Homo sapiens: one gene and its partners. The protein of the gene in region 2 purifies or fractionates together with the protein of the main gene of each other region. This does not show direct contact. Each region holds a gene or a part of one and is shown on either strand. Other genes may lie near its edges.

Region 1 (7,699 bases), on a different chromosome or scaffold from region 2:
AGAGCCTCTTCTTCCTCCTTGTCCTCTGAGGCGGCCATCGCTCTTGAAGATTCTGGCTCTAGAAGGACAGCAGTCACTTTGCTTTGCCCAAGGCCCCTGCTGTAATTTCAGACGAGATCAGGTGCATTCAGGGTGGTATGGCCGTAGACCCCTGATATAATTTCAAACAGCATTTTGTCACTTTCCATTTCTGCTTCTTTCTCTATTTCTTACTGATCTTCTATGCTTTCAAAAGTGCCCTCTAACATCTCCTCTACGATCCCAGCCTTCAACATTTCTTTGGACAGCTCCTGCATGGTGGCCTGGACTTCTGTAATCTTCACAAGATTTAGCATCATATTTTTAATTTCTAACAGCTTACTTTTGTTCTCTGAATATTCTTGTTTCGTGGAAGCAAAATCTCCTCTTATCTCTCTAAAGACATTTATTGTAGTTAAAAAGCTTTCTTCTGTTCTCTGCATTGTTAATTTGCTTTGAATCACCTTTTTTGTTTGTTTTGGTCCCTGATTTTCAAATTAAAGATTTTCTTAAATGTAGAATGAACTATGGTTAGATGTTCATCTTTAATAGTTGGGCACCTCAACTTCTTCTGCCCTGAAAAAAAAAAGTTGGGTACTAGAGGCTGATTGGAAGTTTTGGATATAGAGGTGGGAACTTTGATCTTTACTGTAGGATGATGTGGTTGTATCATTTCACTCTCTCTCTCTTTTTTTTTTTGAGACAGTCTCGCTCTGTCACCCAGGCTGGAGTACAGTGGTGTGATCTCGGCTCACTGCAACGTCTGCCTCCCGGGTTCAAGCAATTCTCCTGCCTCAGCCTCCTGAGTAGCTGGGATTACAGGCACATACCACCACATCTGGTAAATTTTTGTATTTTTAGCAGAGACGGGGTTTCATCAGGTTGGTCAGGTGGGTCTTGAACTGCTGACCTCATGATTCGCCCGCCTCGGCCTCCCAAAGTGCTGGGATTACAGGTGTGTGCCCCGCAGCTGGCCAGTTGTGTAATTTCAATGAGGACACCCAACTGTTAGTAACTAAAGGTCTGATTTCCTCAGTTGGTCAATTTCTCCAGAAATGAATCTTGTAATCACTTGGCTGTCATTAAAATCCATGTTCTCTCCATGGTACTATCTTGATTAATTAAGCACTAAAAGTCTGTAGTCTAACTGTTATAAGAATTCAGGAGAGGTAGAGATCAATTAGTGGAAACGCTGGGGAAAACTTAATAGATGAAGTGGGACATGGGATAAGCTCAAAAGACAAATAGGCCAGCCAGAAACTGAGGTGAAAGAGAATCAAAGTGAACAGTAATTAAATGCTGTAGTTCAGAAATAGGAATAATCACTTTTAGCTGATAATGTAGCACAGCTAAATAAGACATGTATATGGAATGAAGTCTCTATTCAGCCATGAAGCAGCTTGTGACTTCTGCAAGGTATTACTCTAAGACATTCAATTTCTTCACTTGAAAAACTTGGGGAGATTATCTTCAAAGTCCTCCCTAGGCCTAAGGTTTCTTTATGGCATTTACTATTAAGATTCTTTTGCATTATGTAACTTTGCCAGTAATAAATTATAATTAGTGAGTGACTATATAGTTTATAGGAGTGAATCTAGGAGCTCTGAAATTACTGTCATGAAAACATTAATTTATAGGGAACTTAAGGACTTTATTTACATTAAATCTCATATGCTTTAAATCTCATATCTCCTACTGCTTTAAAACAATCTGTCCACTTGCTATATGTAAGTGTACTCTGATCATTCCCTCTAATAAAGTAAAAAATTAAAACCTGAAACTAACCCCTTCTGAAATCCTGACCTTGTTTTTTCCCTTTGCATATAGACAGAGGATATCATTGAAGAAGGAAAATAGGTCTATTTCCTCTATTAATGTATAACTGTGCCATTCCTAAATGGGAGAATTGATTCAAATTAATTTGTAACACATGATAGCAACACTTCCTTGAGAAACTGTTCTAGCTACATCTCTTGTTCAGCAAAGTGTACTAATTTTCAGAGAACAAAAGCAAAATAAAGTTTCACTTAAGACTATGCATCTCAAAGTTTAATGTACACACAAATCAGGGCTTTTGTTAAAATGCAGATTTTTCTGTAGTTCTGGGATGGGATCTGAGATTCTGCTTTGCTTTTCTTTTCTTTTTTGACAGAGTCTAGCTCTGTTGCCCAGGGTGGAGTGCAGTGGCATGATCTTGGCTCACGGCAACCTCCACCTCTGCCTCCCAGGTTCAAGTGATTCTCCTGGCTCAGCCTCCTGAGCAGCTGGGACTACAGGCATGCACCAACACGCCAGGCTAATTTTTGTATTTTTAGAAGAGACAGGGTTTTACCATGTTGGCCAGGCTGGTCTTGAACTGCTGGCCTCAAGTAATCCGCTTGCCTTGGCCTCCCAAAGTGCTGGGATTACACGCATGAGCCACCGTGCCCAGTTAGATTCTGCATTTCTAACAAGCTTTCAACTGATGCTGGTGCTGCTGGTCTGTACACATACACTTTGAGTAGTAAAGGCTTATACTTTTTTGATGTATGATTAGCTCACTCAAGTCAGAAGTCCAGTGGCAGTGGACACAGGGACTAGAGTTTAGGAAAGAGAGACTTGGGCTGGGAATATTTGGGAGTCATCAGTACATAGGAGATTTTGATGCCAGAATATGAGGATAACGGCCCAGGAATAGTGTTTGGAGAAAAAGGAAGAGAGGCCCAAGGCCAGCCCATGGGTAGCGCCATTATTTAAGGCACACTTGTAGGATGAAATTTAAGAAGGTCAAGAAGTAGCAGATGAACCTGAGATGCCAATGATGCTTTTCAATGAGAAGCCTGTAGTTCTCAAACTTATATTTTAAAATATAAGTAATAACTACATTTATTGAGCCTTTTATTCCTGGCACTGTGCTAAGGGCTTCAAATTTTCTCTAAAACACAGGGTGTAAGAAATGTGATGTCACATTAAAATTTTTCTCTAACCACATCCCAATGCTCTGAGCTGGTGGAAAATGTAATTTGGGTCATCAGTAGGATTTTCCACTCCACACCCAAGATTATATGAAGGTTCTAGGGGTCTTAGTCTCAGTCCAGTACATTTGGAAAAGGCCCTCTAGTCTTCACTCAATGCTGATTACTGCTAATATTCTCATTTTCCCACCTCATTCATCCCTTGTAGGTGAGCTGCTTTCTTGATTCCCTGCCAAGCTTGGGCATAAGGGTCTTGGTCATGGTTGGAATCTCAGATACCTAGCACGCAATCTCCCTAATATGCTACGCATTCATTCCCACCTAAGGTTCCACCACTTTCCTCACCTATTAGGTTCCTGGTAGTCACATAACCGGCAACTCTCCTTTTCTGTCGTTCAGCTAGTTGCCACCTACCTCAACCAAACTCAAAAGCCTCTAACCCCTCTCCACTGTGTGAAGACGGAAGTACCTCAATGGACACAAGTGTTTTTGGTGAAAGGGACTTTTTATTCTGCCCCGGAGCTAGGGAAATCCCAGATCTGTGCCAGAGTTATCAAGGGGGTAGTATATAATCATTCTCTGCATTCTTTTACAGCACTGAGAACAAGTAAAATTCTTACCTTAGTATCTTTACAAATCATTTTACCACACATGTATTGTCGTATGAAATCCCTACAACCACTCCATGCAGGAGTAATTCCCAGTTTACATCCTGAAGCTCTGATAAATTTAGAAACCTGCTTTAAGTCACAGAGCTAATAAGTAATGTGTAGGTGCTATAAACTATGTGCCTTGGGCTCTGCAGCTATGAGGGCGTGGTATTATCACAGTTCCTATCGAAATACCTTGCTGGAGGTCATGTGTGAGTGGCAGTGACCAGACAAATAGAGAAACCTCATATACAGAGGGGAAAAGTCTCCATGTATAGTGCCTGGGATATCTCCATGTTAGTGCTGCTCTTTCTTGGATCTTCACCGCAACGCCACTATCTTGATTTTACTATAAGAAACTGAGGTTTCGAGTGCACTGGTGATTTGCCTACTGCCACAAAACCAGGCTAATGGGCTGGGCGCGGTGGCTCAAGCCTGTAATCCCAGCTCTCTGGGCAAAGGCTGAAGCGGACGGATCACCTGAAGTCAGGAGTTCGAGACCAGCCTGGGCAACATTGGCGAAATCTCGTCTCTAATAAAAATTTAAAAATTAGCTGGGCGTTTGACGCGCGCCTGTAATCCCAGCTACCCGGGAGGCTGAGGCTTGAGAATCGCTTGAACCGAGTGGCGGAGGCTGCAATGAGCCGAGATCGCGCCACTGCACTCCAGCCTGAGCGACAGAGCGAGACTCCTTTTCTACAACAACAACAAAAAACCAGGACAAATCTTGCTGGCTTCCAGTATGGTATTCGTTTCATCTCACCAAACTGGCGTGGCCTGCGCTAGCTTCAGAGTCTCGACAAACTCCAATACAAGTAAGGTACACATTATTTTAGCAGTCTTCCTTGGGGAGGACGTGGGGCAAGCACAAGCGTAGCGTTAGGCCTGAGACTCCACCCCAGCCGTCTCTGAGCCCAGTTCAGCACGCACGCGTCAGGCGGCTTTTTTCCGCCCGGCTCCTTTCCTCCACTCCCTTCCCGCCACTCCCCGCCCTTTTCCCGCCCGGATGTTATTCTAGTTTTGCCGGATGTTGTTGTATGTCCGAGAGACACGTGAGGTTCTGCTACGTCATTACCAGGCACGCGCAGGAAACATGGCGGCGGCGGGTGTTGTGAGCGGGAAGGTAGGTAACGGCCTCCAGGAAGACCTCGGCTTTTCTCTGGGACGGGGATGCTTTTGCTCCCTGGCAGCTGGTTGGGGGAGGGACACGAGGGACTTTCTGTGTCCGGACAACCCGTGGCGTCTGTAGGAGAAGACTGGGTGGTACCAGCTGGTTTCCCGAGAATGCCAGTTCAGCCGCGGAGTTATAGAGCCGGCTACTGCTCCAAGGCCAGCTAGGCCTCGGCGCTCTTCTGCCCCAGAGCAGAGAGGCTTTTATTCGTATTACCTTTACTAAGGGACAGGTGGCTCTCTAGTTCCTTTTTTCCCCCGATTCACTGTTTCTTGACTCTAGTTCTTTATGTCTACTCTTCTGACTCCAGCGTCTTTTCTCTCTTTGAAGCGTTAACCCGACTTGCCTCTGTCTTCTTTGCTACAGTTTGGTGAAGATGTTTATGCTTCCTTCGGGAGGAGCTGAATAGATGCTAGGCAGCTAGCTGTGCGCTTAGAAGAAACGAGTGTATTGGGTCTGTTTTTACCAAGCTGCTGAGTTGGTTGGTGGTTGTGAGCAGCAGGACGTGTTTCCTGAGAGAAATGGAGATTTACACCATCCTGTGCTTGTCTAGGAAGGCGTCCAAATATTTATTTCCTAGGCATTTCAGTAGGAGTATTGGTCATGCTGGTTTACGGAGGTGGTCAGTGACACGCCTAATTTCGTTGGAAACTAGAATTACGTGCGGAGATTTCGTCGAATAGTGCCTATTCGCGTTCCGAGGGCACATCTTATGCATAGTTAGGGCTATCAGCTTTATGATATGCCACCGATAGTATTTCCCAGTGCAGGAGTATTTCATAAACAGCTGGAATCAACTGAAGTGACTCATCGAACACTAATGGTTGTTTACTCATTGCAGATAGCGTCCTCTGTTCCTTGAGTTTCACTCATGTCTCCCTGTTGCTTTCCCTACCCCATTTTGAATTATTTGACAGCGTTTGTGGTTTGGTGTTTGGAGTATTAGACTAGGCGGCTGAATGACAAATATGGGCTTGGTTTTGCTGTTAATCTGAAGTATGACCTTGGAAAATTGGGCAATTGTGACTTTTGTCTTTTCGCGTTCTTTATCTGTAGAATGGAGGAGATGCCAATCATTATTTCTTGTATTGGAGTTGTTAGGGTTATATAAATTTTTTTTTAAAAAAACATAAAATTACACACTTGTACCTACTGGCTCTTTTAAAGGATAGGTGGGCATCCTTTTTTGGATTATTCGTGCTCCTTGGTTGTCTTGTCAGTTTTTTTCTTTTTATATTCAGGGTGGATGCTGATATACTGCTTGACTTACTGCGTATTTGAAGATTATCCTGTTTGATTTTCCATCTAAACTGATCCAGGCTGGGACTTTTCAAGAGGGGATCCCTTCCGTTTAAACATCTCCCTCTTTCAGGTTTGGATTGATTTTGAAAGAATCCTTGAGGCAATGAAGCAGAGTTGTGAAATGAAAAACATTTTTCACTCTTTGCAGCCACTACCTTTCATAGTCTGACTTCTTAAAGTGAGACTTATATTTAGTAATTCTGCTTCATAACCTCATTTATTCTCATTCACTGCAAATTCACATCTATTGCCATCACTCCACTGAAACTAGTTTTCCATGCCAAAAGCTGCTCCTCTCCCAAGTAATACTATCATGACCAACAAAACCCACTTGTTCTTCTCTCAGTAAGTTCAGATCTGGTTTAATGGCATCATCTTTCACCTGGTTGCATGTTAAACATACTTGGAGGCATTCATTCCTATAACACTCTCTAATCAATAACCATGTCCTACCAGTTTTACCTTAAGAGGTTTCTTAAATTTACTGCATCTTCTTTACTATCAGCGCATAGTTCAGGCTTTTAGTCTGCTTCTATTCTTGATTTCTTGGCTGATTTTACTCCTTTTCTACAGTCTCTGCCCTTAATCTTCTCTACACCACCACTGGAGTTATTTTTCTAATGCGCAAACCTGATAATCTCTTGATTTAAAAAGCAAATGAAAACTCTTCACTTTTTTATCGTCAGCATAATAATAATAATAATGAAAGCTGGTTAATGTAACATAAAAAGACATGATACCTTTATGCTTCCCTACTTCCTAATCTTTTTTCTTTAGGAAAGGGGATGGGGAGAAAATGTGTGTGTGTGTTTATTTATTCATCTCCCCTCTCCCTTCAAGTTTTAGCTAAGAGTTCTAGTTTAGAAATCCAGGGGAGTGAATGTTAACCAAGGCTCACAAAAATCACTCGTGATACTTTTTAATAAAAGTACAGATGGTGGGCTACCAGCTCTGTTGAATTAGAGTCTCTCAGTGTCTCCACCTAGGATGTAACTTTTCTTAAAACTCTACTTGCTTTGAACTTGGAGTTTCGGAAAGTGATGGAGGAAGTTAATCTCTGTCTTGTAGGGAAGCAGCAAAAGGTAATGGTTAAGAGCTTGGTCTCTGAAACCAAACTAGTTTCAGAAATTATCTCCACACATTTACAAGCGACTTCAGTAAAATTACTTAACCTCTCTGTGCTTCAGTATCCTCATCTGTGATATGATAACAGTACCTACTTTATTCTTGGTATGAGGATTAATGAGTAAATATATTAGAAACTGTAGACTGAACTAATCATCATGAGGTCAGATCCTGAAATGTTTCATCTGCCCCTAACATAGATTCTGGCACATAATAGGTATTCAGTGAAGAGGAAGAAGCAAGAAGGTATGAGAAAATGAGGAACCAGGTGCCGTGGCTCAGGCCTGTAATCCCAGCACTTTGGGAGGCTGAGGTGGGAGGATCACTTGAGCTCAGGAGTTCAAGACCAGCTTGGGCAACATAACTAGACCCTGTCTCTATGAAAAATAAAAAAATTAGCTAGTTGTGGTGACATGTGCCTGTTGTCCCAGCTACTTGGGAGGCTGAGGTGGGAAGATTGCCTGAGCCTGGGACTTGGA
Region 2 (7,020 bases):
TAAATCTGCATAAATGGCTTGCTTCCCAAAAGACTAATATTATGGGTGTTTCCTATTCAAAAATAATTAATGGAAAAAAAAATTTGGACTCTAATTAAGCACTTGAGCTCATATACTTAAACAAGTAATATGGTGATAATGCCCTAAATTCAAATAATCTCAATGTTCATGGCTACTTTTTCCATGGGTAAAACTTAGAAAGGAAAAATTTCTGTCCTTTTCCTTCTTGCATGAACTGAACAGTTAAGAGAATGAAATGCCTCTGGTTTTGTGAAGAATAGTTGAGGTAGGAAAAGAAAAGGTTGGAAGTTAGGGGATAGGGCTTGGCGATGTAGCTGGATGGGAAAAACCAATGTCATCCTCAGAAGTATTGATGCAGTGACCCAGTTGCAGCCAATAATATACAACATAAAGGGTGTAGGTAAAGATACAGGAGATTCAAATAATAAGCAATTCTAAATTTGATCTAATCCAGGTATACCTTCTTTTTACATAGAAAAATGTTGGTTTCTTCCGAACCTGCTTTTTGAGGAACGAAGCATAGAAAAAAATGATCCAAAGCAATGTAAACTCTGATTGGTATAGTTGAGAAACCCCAAATCTCCTTGCTCCTAGGTAGTCTCCTTTATGATTCTTGTAAAAGAGCTCACCCAGGAAAAAGTTTACAATGTGGTGGAGATATAAAGTTCAGCAACATTGGATCCTCTGCAGTGTGCATCACTGTGGCCCATCTTGAGTGTCATTGTTGTGATGATAGTTTCAAGTATGGAAGAGTCCAAGAGAACTAGAGCAGACAACTGGGAAAGAAAAGAGTGAAGGACAGTGATAAAGAAGGGAAAAGAAGAGTTGGGTATGGGAAAATGAAAGGACAAGTGTTCCTGCTCCATGGGCCTGTGCCAACTTAGTATATAGCCATTGGCCCATATACCAAAGTGTAGGACTGCCGTAAAGGGCACCAAATTATTCTGCTATGAAATTAATTAAAGAATTCATATACAATTGTTTTAAATTCTATTGAGAGAAACAAGGAAGAATTCCTGTCTTCTAACAATGTCCTAGGTCATAGAAAAACTCAGTAGATTTTAAATATATTCAACTTTTTAAATTAAATTATCATTTTGTTTATATACTAAGAATGTAAAGTTATGTTTTCATTAAAACTTTAGTAGCAATGAGTAAATTATATGCATTTCAGAGAGAAATTATGACTTTTGTATACATATTTTATGAGATTCCTATGAGCTTAAAAACAATTAGGATAAACTTTAAGAGCAAGACCTAAATTACTCCTCTTTTGTAAAAGGACTTTATAATTTCACTGAGCATGTTAAGTATTAAAAATTAGATTTAATTATAATACAGACAATTCTTCATTACAAAACTGAAGAATAAAGGATTAAACTTTAATAAAAATCATAAAATCTTGTCTATAAGTAGTGCTCAATAAAAATTTATTAAACTGAATTTAATTGAAACCAGGAAAGTGAAGTAAATACTTTATCAAGATTTATCCTAACACCATTACCTTATTTTGTAATTCACAACAGATATGTTTACATCTGACAAGACTCCTTCCTTCAATAATTCAGTATTTGTCTTACAGATTCTTTTATTAAAAAAAAATTTTCTGACCAGTAGGGATAGGCTAGATAACTACTTGAAACAGTCCAAACTCAAAGATACTCAAATTATAAAATTCATAATTTGACATAATTTTCTTCGTATATGTTTCTGTTATATATAATTTGTCCTGTACCCCTCTACCATTTTTAGAGACATATGAATGAATTTCGATGTTTTCACAATTTACTTAGAACATTTGAGGCAGACTGCATATTCCCCTAGGACCTTATTCTATAGGTTTAAGGATAAATGTATTTGTCATTCTGCAATCAACAACTGAAGACGCAGTTTAGTATTTGAGATAAATTCTTGTGGGACTACTTGAGATGATCTTCAGCTAATTTAAAACAGAACATTGTTTTTTAAAATGCCAGCAGGACAAGTTTTTTATCAGCTAGGCCAGAAAGGACTCTGGAAAACGTGCTGGATTTAAGATTACTTTTTTGAGTCCAGTTCTTCACACATAGACGTCGTCTCAAAATAAAATCAAGACTTAAATTATCCTGGCAAATTTTGAAATACATGAGTTGGGATATAGCAAACATAAAATGCTTTTGTTTAACTACAAAGCAGACAGAAGGTACCTCCAGCATTTACTGAAGGCCTCTTATGACACAGGTATTAAAGTTTGACATATATCATTTAATTTTCACAACAACCATATGATGGAGATTGTTCTTGTACAGATGAAGTTGATGTTCTGATAGGTTAAGTGACTGGTCAAAAATTACTGAAGTCAGATAGCCAGGACATTGGCCACATGCCACATTCAATAAATACAGTGACAGAGTAATCAAAGCTGAGAGCGAATAACTTGCTTCTGTTTATTTGGTCCTTTATTTCACTAATTTTTACTCATATTAATCACAGATTAATTATGACATAGATTTTGGAATCCTGTATTATTTTTGCCTATTTTTTATGTTTTGGGAAAATAATACATTTGGAAGAATTTACTGATTACTTCTCATCATTTGATAAGAATTACGATTTCTCTGATAATGGTAGTCAGCAATGAGTCCATTAAATCACACATATATTATCCCTGCCTGGAGATACTATCTTCAGTTCAAAGAACAAGTGACTGGGATAATGACATAAAAATACATAATATGGAGAACACATAGACTCTGAATGTTATGTCATGTGTTCCATCTCCCTAATTTCAGAAAGAATCATCCTTCAACTATCTTGCATAGAAAATTATGTAGCATATATTGTGCAACCAGAGGCAATTTTCTCCTCTATAAATAATATCAAGGTTGAACAACCACTACATATAGGAAATGTATCCTCATGTTGCTGTTTAACATTAATTAAATAACTATTACTACACATGGAATAAACATAAATCACTCATTCACAGGTAATATTTCTTAGTTTTAAGCAGGAAATATTGAACATGCTTGGCTGTCTTGTCTATTTTATGAAGGAAAAAATGTGTAGCTTTATTAGACATTTTAGGAGCTTACACTTTGAGAGAATACTTATGTACATAACTCGAATAAATCTCATGTCGCCATAGGGGGATATTAATTTAGAATGTGCAAATGACAACCACATCCATCTCTGGCAATAGCCTGCCACCTGGCCTGAAATTCCTACTGGTAGAATCTACCAAAGGACCATCATGAGAAATGTACATTTCTAATGTACTTAAATGACTTAAGAGATTTAGTTCCAGTGCATGAAAAGTAACAAATCCATAGGCATTAATCATCACCACAAATCATTATCTAGCCTAGAACAAGGCCCACAAAATATAAGACAAGACAGAAATGTGGAGAGTGGCAGGTAGAAGGAAAGTTTATAGCACAAAACGTTAAGAAACAATTGAACCAGCATAATGGCACTTTGCAAATGTGAGAAGGTAGAAAAACTTCTGAAAAGAAATGAAAGGGTATTCTTGTCAAAACCCACTGTACCTCTTCCAGACGCTTTGCCGGAATTTGATCTGATGGCAACTTAATTCCTTCTTAGCCTTGGATCAATAGAATGCAACTTCCAGTTTCCTTGTTAGGGTCATGGATGCTTTAAGAAAATCCCCCTTCATTCTGTTATCAGCTGTCTCAGAACATATCTAAAGGAATCAGTATTTTAAAAATATAAAGAATAGACTATTACAGCAAATCAAGCAGTACTGTGGTTTCAGATCGCAGTAAAAGTTTAAAACATAGACTTTGAAATCAGTGGGACCTGAGTATGGACCCTGGCCCCGCCACTTACTGGCTGTTTAGGCTTGAAAAAGTTACTTACCCTTTCTGAACTTTACTCAGTCTTCTCATCTACGTGATGGATATAAATTAGAACTGACATCATGAGGTTGTTTAATAAGATCAAATGAGATTATACATATATGTTTCAGCAAACTAAGTGCCTAACTCATAATAATCACTCAATAAAAGTTGGTGATTTTTGGAGAGAAAGAAGAAATACTGAGATTAATTAAGAGAGTAGAAATAATGATGATGACAATGATGCTGATGATGATAATGATGACAATGATCCATGAAGAAGCAGTTGTTTTGCATGAGCAACGTATTGTGTATAAGTAATATAATATGTACCTGATTGTTTTTTTTTTTCTTAATTTTCAGTGTGCACCTAATTGGCCTATTGGTTTGGCAATCTGATATTTCTGTGAGCCCAGTAGCAGCTATAGTAACTGACATTTTCAATACCTCCGATGGTGGACGCTTCAAATTCCCAGACGGGGTACAAAACTGGCCAGCACTTTCAATCGTCATCATAATAATCATGACAATAGGTGGCAACATCCTTGTGATCATGGCAGTAAGCATGGAAAAGAAACTGCACAATGCCACCAATTACTTCTTAATGTCCCTAGCCATTGCTGATATGCTAGTGGGACTACTTGTCATGCCCCTGTCTCTCCTGGCAATCCTTTATGGTAAGTACAATTTTATTCACTTTTCAATCTCGTATAATGTCATAAATTTGTGTCATAGTAAACACTCATAAAGTTAATTATTTTACTTGTAACATTTGGAAAAAGAAAAAAGCAAATCGTGTGACAGAAGGAGTTGGATGTATGTATCATATTTATTAAACAAATCAGTAACAGTCTTCCAAAAGCAAAACATACATTTTATATATATTAAAATCATACATAGATGCTCTCTTGCTTAGTGTCTTTGTAAACAATGAATGAACAGTTAGTTGCCTTACAATGTACTGAATGAGACATTAACAGAAACATCTTTCAACCCCTGTGTTCTGGGCAGTACACATACCTACTACCATCTCTGATACAAAGAAGGAAAAACCGGCTCATCCTCTTTAATAAATATATTTTAAGAAATCCTTTTTTAAAGCTGCCAAACTAAGTGGTTGACACAAAACAGGCACTCAATAATAGCTATTCTTCTTGTTCATGGAGTCTATAATTTGTGTTATTACAAAGAGACAAGAGATAGCAAAATTAATTACTAAGTATATAAGTGTAAGTTCATATCATCACTTTAAAAATTCAGGCATTGAAAGTTTCAATATATTGATTTTAAAGAGGTTTTTAATTTTTCTTTTGATTTTCTTCCATCCCTTCATTCTGTTCATTTTAACCTAAGGTTTTGTTTCTAGCTAATATTTATGATGAACAATCAAATAGTTTATACAACTCTACAAAGTATCTTTACTAGGAAGTTGGAGAGCCCAGTTTGAATTTAATTGCTAATATGCTTATCTCACAAAGGAGTAAAATAGACTTCCAGTTGCCTGGAGTGTATAATGGAATTAGACTAGAAGAAATAATATTGAAAGTGTATCTAGTTGTCGAATCCTAAAAGAAAATAAATGCATCTAGAAAATAATCTCTCATGTAATGTAAAAATTAAGTAGCCTGTTCTATACCTATGGCAACAGTAGATTATCTTAATAGGCATTTTATAAAGTGTTCTCAGAATATATGCTTTTCATATTCTTCATCGAGTTTCAATGATGCATTAGCCTTAAAGCACTAGTATTTTATCTGCTCAGTGGGCATTTTACCACTCTATTGCTCCAAAATTAAGAAAAGATTACTGGAATGAAGTGAAACTATGATTTAGAAGGTATACTGTGTTCTGTGGTGTCTGTTTCGCCAGCTTCTCCCTTTAAAAAAATGTGAGTGGCCAAATAATGATATTAGCATAAATCCAAGTCTCTTAACATATCTATTCCCCTGCCCAAATAAACAAAGAACAATATAAAAAACAAATAAAACTGCACAATACCACCATTAAGTGTGGAGAACATTCAAATTTCAAATTACCTGTAAGTAGGAAAACAAATGGGAAATAACATTGAACTATCTATTAGACTTCTACCCCATGCTGTTGCGTAGAAGAAGAGTAGTCCAGGAAAGATAGCATGAAATAAACTAGAGGAAAGCTATTAGGAAGCCTAAGATTGATCTAAAACCACCACAGGTGGCCGGGCGCGGTTACTCACGCCTGTAATCCTAGCACTTTGGGAGGCCCAGGCTGGCGGATCACTTGAGGTCAGGAGCTTGAAACCAGCCTGGCTAACAGGGTGAAACCCAGTCTCTGCTGAAAATACAAAAAAATTAGCCGGGCGTGGTGGTGGGCGCCTGTAATCCCAACTACTCGGGAGGCTGAGGCAGGAGAATTGCTTGAACCTGGGAGGCAGAGGTTGCAGCAACTCGAGATCACAACACTGCACTCTAGCTTGGGCGACAGAGCAATACTCCATAAAAAAATTTAAAAAAAAAACCACCACAAGCAAGTAAGTCTACCCCAAGTACGAAAATACTGAAAAGTTTCTCTAGAAGGTCAGCTTTCAGATAAGGTACTGAAAAGTATGCATAAGACTCAAGAAAGCAGCCTTGGAAAATTAACTCTTTGGAGGTGGAAAAAGGTAAAAAAGGAAGCAAGAGGTGACTTGAAAAAAAAAAAGCACAGTGAAAGGAAAAAGAAGCAAGAGGGGGAAATTTATCATCTTACAGTACAGAAAATGTCAAAATATTAGGACCCATCACCCCTCCCTCTACTGTCTCCCACTGTCCCCCAAAGGCCCTCCAGTAAAGAAACCATACTTTGATACACAAAGAAAAGAGGATGCTCTTGAGCTTGGAATTTTGGAAGCTACCTACAAACTGTCAGTCATGTTCATAGAAATTCTGAGATGCAACCAATCTTCATCTATACCAAGCTACTATAGAAAAAAATCAGAATATGAGAATAGAAAGAAGGCATTTGATGAACATTCCCTCCAATAAAGAATGATCAAGCCGAAGAATATGCTAGCAAAACACTTCAAAAAAAATCTGCAAACAAGCATGTTAAGGTATTAAAAAATGTACTTTGAAGTAGTAATCTAATAACTAAGAATAGAAATGGTCAAAAAAATAGGACAGCATGAAGGAAAATTAACTGAATT
Region 3 (7,251 bases), on a different chromosome or scaffold from region 2:
ATTCCAGGGCATCTCATGAACCCCAAGCCAAGGCCCTCCCGCTCTTTCACCCTCCTGGCTTAGGGCAGCCCCTTACTCCTCTTGTCGTGTTTGTGATGCAGGGCATTGGCTTCTGCCTTCATGCTGTAGTCCAGCTGCATGAGCAGGGGCTCCAGGCGAGTGTACATCCTCTGGATCAGCTCATGATAAACCACCAGGGGCCACAGCAGGATACTCAACACTATGGGTTAAGAACGTGAACTAAGAGCTCCCTACGCCAATTTCCTAAGAGCCCCCATTCAACTGGTCCCTAAACTGAAGTGCTGAAGGTAGGCAAGGTCCTTTCCCAAGGCTGTGCCAACCTCTTCTTGCCACATCCACTGCCCTCCTCCCCAGGTAAGTCTTCCACAGTTACTAATACTAAAGCATCCCTGGAGATCTCCACAAATCAGAAACTGAGCAGAGAGAGCATAGTCTTCCCTCTGGGTCAGTCCAAGGAAAGAAGAAAGGAGAGGGCTTTAAATAGGGCAGGGACAGACCCTACTCACAGACAATGTAGGAAATCATAATCCCTGGAACATAGTGTCCCAACACAGCCAACACAGCACAGCCAGAGCAGACTCGAACGCAGAACTGCAGAGAAGAGCAAAAGTCTAAGAACATCACGCTGAGATATGCGCCCCGCTCGGCTGGGTAAGAAACTACTGCTCAGCTGGTAGAAGGATGGGTATGTACTCAAGGAATGGGGTGGTCCAGTTTGGTTAAGAGGATGCTCAAGACCACCAATTCAGGAAGCTGGCAATACATAATGCCCACCACCTGTAATTCACACTGGTCTGCCTTGGCAGGAGAAAGTGTCAGGCTATCAAAAGCTTATTTCCTGAGGTGAGACTGCCTCCTGCACCAGGGATTAGCTGTGAATGTTGCCTCAAGAAGGCGCCCAGGCCTCTTCTTTCAGGGTCTCCAAGCGGGGAGTTTATATCACTCCACTCCCATCCCCCGCCACCTCTATTCCCCTTCAGTGTAGTGAACTGTTGTATGATGTAGGGGAGGTTACCTGAGCTGGATTCTGCCTCTTGTACTGCAGCAGCTCCTGCAGGTGAATCTGGAAGGTGAGCCAGCTCTCAGCCAGGTATCTGCACAACTCGGGCACACTCAGCAGGTGCGGCCGGGCGCCTGACCCCGCACCCTCACTGGGGAGACATGACATGACCCCTGGAGGCCTCAGATACCAGCTTCCTAGACACTTAAATCCCTCTGAGAATGCCAAAGATATCTTTAGTCTAAAAAAGCAAATGACCCCACCTCTCAAAAGGAGGCTGTCCTGGTCTTAGAAGCAAAGCCAGGAGGACCCAACCCTCTGCCCCAAAAGGAGCAGGCACGCAAACACCTACACAGGAGCCTAGGACCATGAAAAACCCATGGCTTGTTACCAGTTCATTCACAATGCTGGGGCACTGCCCTGCTCCATGGTGACACTGGCACCAGCAAGCAGGACAGGATGTGGGCATTTGTCTTCAAGAGGTGGCCTGTACTCACCTGTCAGAGTGTGGCTCCTCTGGGGATGATGCTAGAGAGAGAGGAGGGGGGCAAATTATTGAGTGGTAGGGGCCCTGGGAGACACTCCCCAAGGCAGAAATAGTTGTCCCTCCTCTGCAGCCCCAGAGCACCTTCTTCAGATGCCAATGGGGGAGCTGTTACATGTTTTTGTTTGCGTCTGTCTCCTTTAGACATTACCCTTCTCCAACATAAGAACTAGATTTTACTCATGCTTATCTCCCAAGCAACTCACATACAGCCTGTCACCTACTAAGTAAATTATATGGATAACAAGAAAAACAACACTGACGTTCTATTTATAAGGCTTATATGTGAAACACTATCATAAGTATAGCATGTGTATTAACTCATTAATCCTCTCCTCACCTCTCTATGAAGTAAGTTCTATCATCTGTGTTTTACAGATAAGGAAATTGAGACAAACAGAAATTGAGCTACTTTTACAAGGTCACAGCAATGGTAAATGGCAGAACAGAGAATGGAACCCAGGTAATATGGCTGCAGACTTCACCATCTTAACCACTGCACCTACAGTAGTATTAGTTTGGGAAAGGGGCAATTCTCATTTTAGGGAATTCCGTACAAAAAGGAAGTGGGCCATGCCTGGGAGGCAGGTGGCCTGCTGTACGTTCCCCTCGCCACTTAACCCCACCCAGCGGAATCAGGCACCAAGCAAGTACCCAATGGGTGCTTACTGAATGAAGAAACACTCACCTGAAACGTCAGGGAGAAAGCGAGGCTGCCAGAGATCCAGCAGAAAATAGGCCAAAAGTGAGACGCTGAGTAGGAAGAAGGGCCGGAGGGACGAGGAAGACAGCAACCTTAGGGAGAGACAGGCACCTCAGCAGTGAGTGGGTGAGACAGGCTCATGCATCCATCTCAGAAGGTGGAAAGGCGCCTACTGATGGGGTAATGGCACCTCCAGGCCTAACTCGCGACTCACGACTCAGAGATAGAAAAAAATGGGCAATTCAAGCGGATGTCAGCCTGCAAAAACTGGGGATGGGTCATGCCCCCAGGCCAAGTGATAACCCAGAAAGGGGAATGGTGCTCTCGACCCCTCCCTCCCCCGCTCATCCCGGCCCCGCCCCCTCCTCCGCGGCCGTTACCAGAAGAGGCCGTTGAGCGCGGCCGCCGTGACCAGGCTGTGCAGCGGCTTCTCCCACACCAGCAACCGCTGCGCCGCCGCCAGCACCGCCTCCCAGCCGCGGAGCCGCAGCCACAGCGTCGTGGCCAGGCGTCCCACCGCCTCGGCCGTGGCCGCCTCCTCCTCTGCCTCACTGGTGGCCTCACTCATGCCTAGGCTCAGACCCAGACCCAGGCCCAGGCTCAGGCCCATCCCCGGCCCCCCACCCGCGCCAGTGTTACCCCCGCCACCGCCGCTCGCCATAGCCCCGCCGCAGCCGCCGCCCGAGCCCGCGAGGAGCCAGGGCTGCGCGGCCGCCGCCGGGGGCGCGTCAGGCGGAAGGGGGCGCCGCGGAGGACAGCAGAGGTTGCGGACGAGCGTCACGTGACTGCGGAGCGCTGAGCCCGTCACGTGACGCGGCCTAACCCCCCCCCCCCCGGATAGGGCGGGCCGCGCATGCGCCCCGGCGGCTGCCGCTGACACTGCGCCTACACAGGTTCGTTTTCTGGTTGACGAAGTACCCCGGGTTCCGAGTCCGGGTCTAGGTCCAGGCAGTCGAGCCCGTTTTCTTATCCCACAGTAGGCAGGGCGGCTAGGGAGTGTGGTGCTGCCCCGGTATCCCCGTGTGGGGCAGGAAGTGGGCTTCCAGATTCCCAGTATCCCCGGTAGGGTCTGCTTCTGCTCGCTCGGGAAGGGCGGTGGCCGTCCCATTACTCAACCAACCCTCAACGCACTGGTCCTCCCAGTTCCCTCCCCTCAGTGGGTAAACAAACACACACCAGCGCTTGACTCGACAGACTCGAAAACAACATCTACTCAGAAAAGTTGTTTCTTTCCTATCTCCTTAAACTTTCCCACTTCCACATATCGGAGCTTCTTCCCACCTCGGCCTACTCAAGCATGAGATCGGAGGCGGGAGGTGGGTTTCAACACAAAACCTTGGGTAGATGCAGTTTACTTTTGGGTGGACGTGTTGACACGTTTTGAGGCCTTACATTCGCTTAAGATCACAGAATTTCCTCAGTAGCCTTAGGTTTAAAAGTTCAAATTACAGTAAAAAAAAAAAACACCCTGAGTTTCTCTTCCTTTTCATAGTTCACCCACTGCTAAATTTCCTGTGTGTCCTTTCAGACGCTTTTCATATGCATTGCTGAGTATGTATAATATCTCTCCTAAAAAGCAACTGGGAACAACTTCCTGTTGTGCGTTTCGTCTTATTCACATTAACTTCTCCATTGCTACGCCTGGCTTGTTCATCCTCAGTGCGGCGTGGTCCCCCCTACGAATTGTCCCCATTTCTCAGAGGCGCCTGGGGCTTGGCCACGTTCCGTGAGACCAGGAGTTCGAGTCCGGTTCCTGCCCGCGGGTCGGGGCGGGAGGCTGGGCCAGATGGGCGGCAGGAAGTGCCAGGCGCTGACTTGCAGGCGGCACCCCCGCGGCTTGTAAACGCCGGGCGGACGCGGCACAGGCGGAGTACGCGCCTCGCAGCCGCATCTCCTTTCTGCTCCGCGAGGTGAGCGTCGCACGGACGCTTGACACCTCCCTTCCCGGGCCTAGGGCCCCCGCGCGCCGCGCCAAGCCCGGGGCGGAACAGGAAGAGGCGCCCAGTTCAGCCCGGGCCCCGCCTTCCGCCGCCGGGGGGAGGGAGCTGCGAGGGCGAGGGCGAGGACGGCGGCCCGCCCCGGGGAGGCAGGCTGGCAGGTGGACAGGCGGGCAAGGACAGCTCCGCGAGCCCCCTACAACTCGTTTCCTTCCGTTCACCTTCGCAGGGCGGCGACTGGCGGCGCGATGGACCTGACCGGGCTCCTGCTGGACGAAGAAGGCACCTTCTCCCTCGCCGGCTTCCAGGACTTCACGGTGAGTGGGGGTCCCGCCCCCTCCCCGGCCTCCCGGCGCGCCCCTCCCGGCCTGAGCGGCGCTGCGAGCTCGCCTGACTGCTGTGCCGGGACTGGGCGGCAGCTGCTCGAGCAGTGCTTCCTTGAGGCCGCGGCTGCTTGGGCCGGGAGGGAGAGCCGCGGAGTATAGGAATGGGCGTAGGGGTGGCCACACGAGGGCCCTTCTCGGAGAACTTCTCCCGGGGAACCCTCGATGGGGGTGGGGGCATTCCTCCCTCTATGGACCAGGCTGCCATTGGCAAGCGATTTACAGAACGCGGGTCTGGGTAAGGCACGGGCCCCCTAGCAGCGAGGCCGGCCTGTCCCCTGCCCCGCCTTCCAGCCCAGAGCCAGGATCTGCATCATACCTTTCCGTGCCCTTCACCCTCCGCTGCCCCTGCCCTGTTTCAGTTCCTCCCAGGACACCAGAAGCTGAGTGCCCGGATCCGAAGGAGGCTCTACTATGGCTGGGACTGGGAAGCCGACTGTAGCCTGGAGGAGCTCTCCAGCCCGGTGGCAGGTTAGGCAGTGTTGTGTGACTGGACAAGTGAGAAGCATGAAAATGGGATTGTCATCAGGCAGAAAATGGCTCGAGGTTTGCCCCGTGGCTACACTGTCTCTTCATTGCTAGCTCGTTGGTACTTGGTTCAAGAGGGCAGTTTGCATTTCCCATTCTTTTAGCCCAAATGAATAAAAAACATTGCTGCCACATATATCTATACAAATCACTCTTGATTTATATATTGAAAAGCTAATTTTCGAAGGATATCCATCATATGTTCCCCAAGTAAACAAGGCATGTTTATGCCACAGATGAACAGCAGTGACAGATAAATCTGGATAGTTTGATGTGACAGGGCAATAAGCTTTCCTGTTAGAATGAGCTGAAATTCGAACTTGGAATGGGCTTTTTGTCTCAGTGTGTGAGAATTTGATCTCTATTTTGTTACTATGGTCCTGTCCCCAAGGCCTCAGAAAATACAGATCTGGGTCTTCTGCTAGCAGTGGGGACTGGTGTGTTGGGTGTGGGTGCTTGTTTGCTCACTCGGCCTTCCTTCTGTCCCTTGCAGACATTGCTGTCGAACTGCTCCAGAAGGCAGCCCCCAGCCCTATTCGCCGACTCCAGAAGAAATATGTAGCTCATGTGTCCCGGTGAGCCTGGAAATGAGGATAGGATGAGAGTGTTTGGGCCCTAGAGAAAGGGGAATCGTCTTTTCTTTCTTTTCTTTCTTTCTTTTTTTTTTTTTTGAGACAGTCTCACTTTGTCACCCAGGCTGGAGTGCAGTGGCACAATCTCGGCTCACCGCAACCTCCGCCTCCTGGGTTCCAGTGATTCTTGTGCCTCAGCCTCCCCAGTAGCTGGGACTACAGGCACACACCACCGCCCCTGGCTAATTTTTGTATTTTTAGTAAAGACGGGGTTTCACCATGTTGGCCAGGCTGGTGTCAAACTCCTGGTGTCAGTCCACCCACCTTGGTCTTCCAAAGTGCTGGGATTACAGACATGAGCCACCGTGCCCAGCCAGGAATAGTTTTTTTCCAAAGATAAGAGGTAAAGACAGGAACGAGCATCATAAGACTTGCAAGAGCTGAAGGACCCTTGGGTTTAATTAGTGATCCTTTCTACCACCCAGGGAGGCATGCATCTCCCCATGTGCTATGATGCTGGCTCTGGTGTACATTGAACGGCTCCGGCACCGAAACCCAGACTACTTGCAGCATGTGTCATCCTCTGACTTGTTCCTGATCTCCATGGTAAGACACCCCCTCCCCATCTCCCTAAAGAGCCAAGAGCCTGCTATGAGCTCTGCTCCACCACTTCTGGTTCCTCTGCAGATGGTGGCCAGTAAGTACCTCTATGATGAAGGGGAGGAGGAGGAGGTCTTCAACGACGAATGGGGAGCTGCTGGGGGTGTGGCCGTGCCCACTCTCAATGCCTTGGAGAGGGGCTTCCTGAGTGCCATGGTGAGCAGCTGTTCTCTCTCTTGCTCAGTTTCCCTGGCCCATCTTTAACCGTCCTTTAGTCCTTTGTTCTCTCTCAGTCTTCTGTTGGTTCGTCATTTCTCTTCCTGTCCTCCTCCTGCCTTTGTGTTAGTGTCTTCCTTTCCTATCTCTTCAGTACTAACCAGTTTTTGGAGATTCGTAGAGCAGTAAGGCCAAGAGCAGAACATTTCCTCGCCTCCTCTATTCCTCCAGGGCCCCACAGGGTACACTCTGAGTCAGAGTTTATCCTATTGGGTTCTGAATATTTGTGTCCATACTTTCTCTGCCCCTAGATGTTTAGCTCCCTGTGGACACAGACCATTCTCAGGGTCATTTTCTCCCCTCTTGCTTAGTGGAGAGTATAATGTGAAACCAGGCAGGTGGTGATTCAATGAGTTAATGTGTAAAAACTTTTGAGACAGTATCTGGCACATGGTAAGTGCCAAATATGCATTAGCCATAGGGGCGGTTGTAGTTGCTGCTATGGCTCTTATTATTAAATGACTGTGGCTCATCCAAGTCTGGTTTGATGTCCACTCTCCGTACTCACAGGATTGGCATCTCTACACTGACCCTCGGGAGATCTTTGAGGTGCTGAGCTGGTTGGAGAGCTGGTAGGTTCTAGGAGTTGGGAAGAAGGGCTCGAGGGATTTGGGGGCTGAGTCCTCAGCCATAGGAGCTAGAGATGAGAGTCTGTGTAACTGGGGGAGGGAGGAGACAAGAAAGAGA

The links. The genes of interacting proteins can lie anywhere in the genome.
Region 1: the proteins of HTR2C (region 2) and TBC1D15 purify together in Homo sapiens (co-immunoprecipitation; 3 studies listed by BioGRID and IntAct, with this or other methods). This does not show direct contact.
Region 3: the proteins of HTR2C (region 2) and RETREG2 purify together in Homo sapiens (co-immunoprecipitation; 3 studies listed by BioGRID and IntAct, with this or other methods). This does not show direct contact.

What each region holds. Positions count from the first base shown.
Region 1 is NC_000012.12:71,835,067-71,842,765, forward strand, and holds the start of TBC1D15 (TBC1 domain family member 15), read left to right. Parts: upstream 1-4,692; 5' UTR 4,693-4,715; coding exon 4,716-4,745; intron 4,746-6,034; exon of another isoform or gene 6,035-6,165; intron 6,166-7,699. UniProt on the Homo sapiens protein: Acts as a GTPase activating protein for RAB7A. Does not act on RAB4, RAB5 or RAB6.
Region 2 is NC_000023.11:114,727,074-114,734,093, forward strand, and holds part of HTR2C (5-hydroxytryptamine receptor 2C isoform a precursor), read left to right. Parts: intron 1-3,548; exon of another isoform or gene 3,549-3,703; intron 3,704-4,220; coding exon 4,221-4,534; intron 4,535-7,020. UniProt on the Homo sapiens protein: G-protein coupled receptor for 5-hydroxytryptamine (serotonin).
Region 3 is NC_000002.12:219,174,031-219,181,281, reverse strand, and holds the start of RETREG2 (reticulophagy regulator 2), read right to left. Parts: upstream 3,008-7,251; 5' UTR 2,930-3,007; coding exon 2,649-2,929; intron 2,574-2,648; exon of another isoform or gene 2,361-2,573; coding exon 2,254-2,360; intron 1,550-2,253; coding exon 1,519-1,549; intron 1,173-1,518; coding exon 1,037-1,172; intron 613-1,036; coding exon 528-612; intron 221-527; coding exon 77-220; intron 1-76. Other genes in the region: protein CNPPD1, read left to right, coding at 4,454-4,522, 4,951-5,059, 5,610-5,691, 6,174-6,294, 6,376-6,504, 7,075-7,136. UniProt on the Homo sapiens protein: Endoplasmic reticulum (ER)-anchored autophagy regulator which exists in an inactive state under basal conditions but is activated following cellular stress.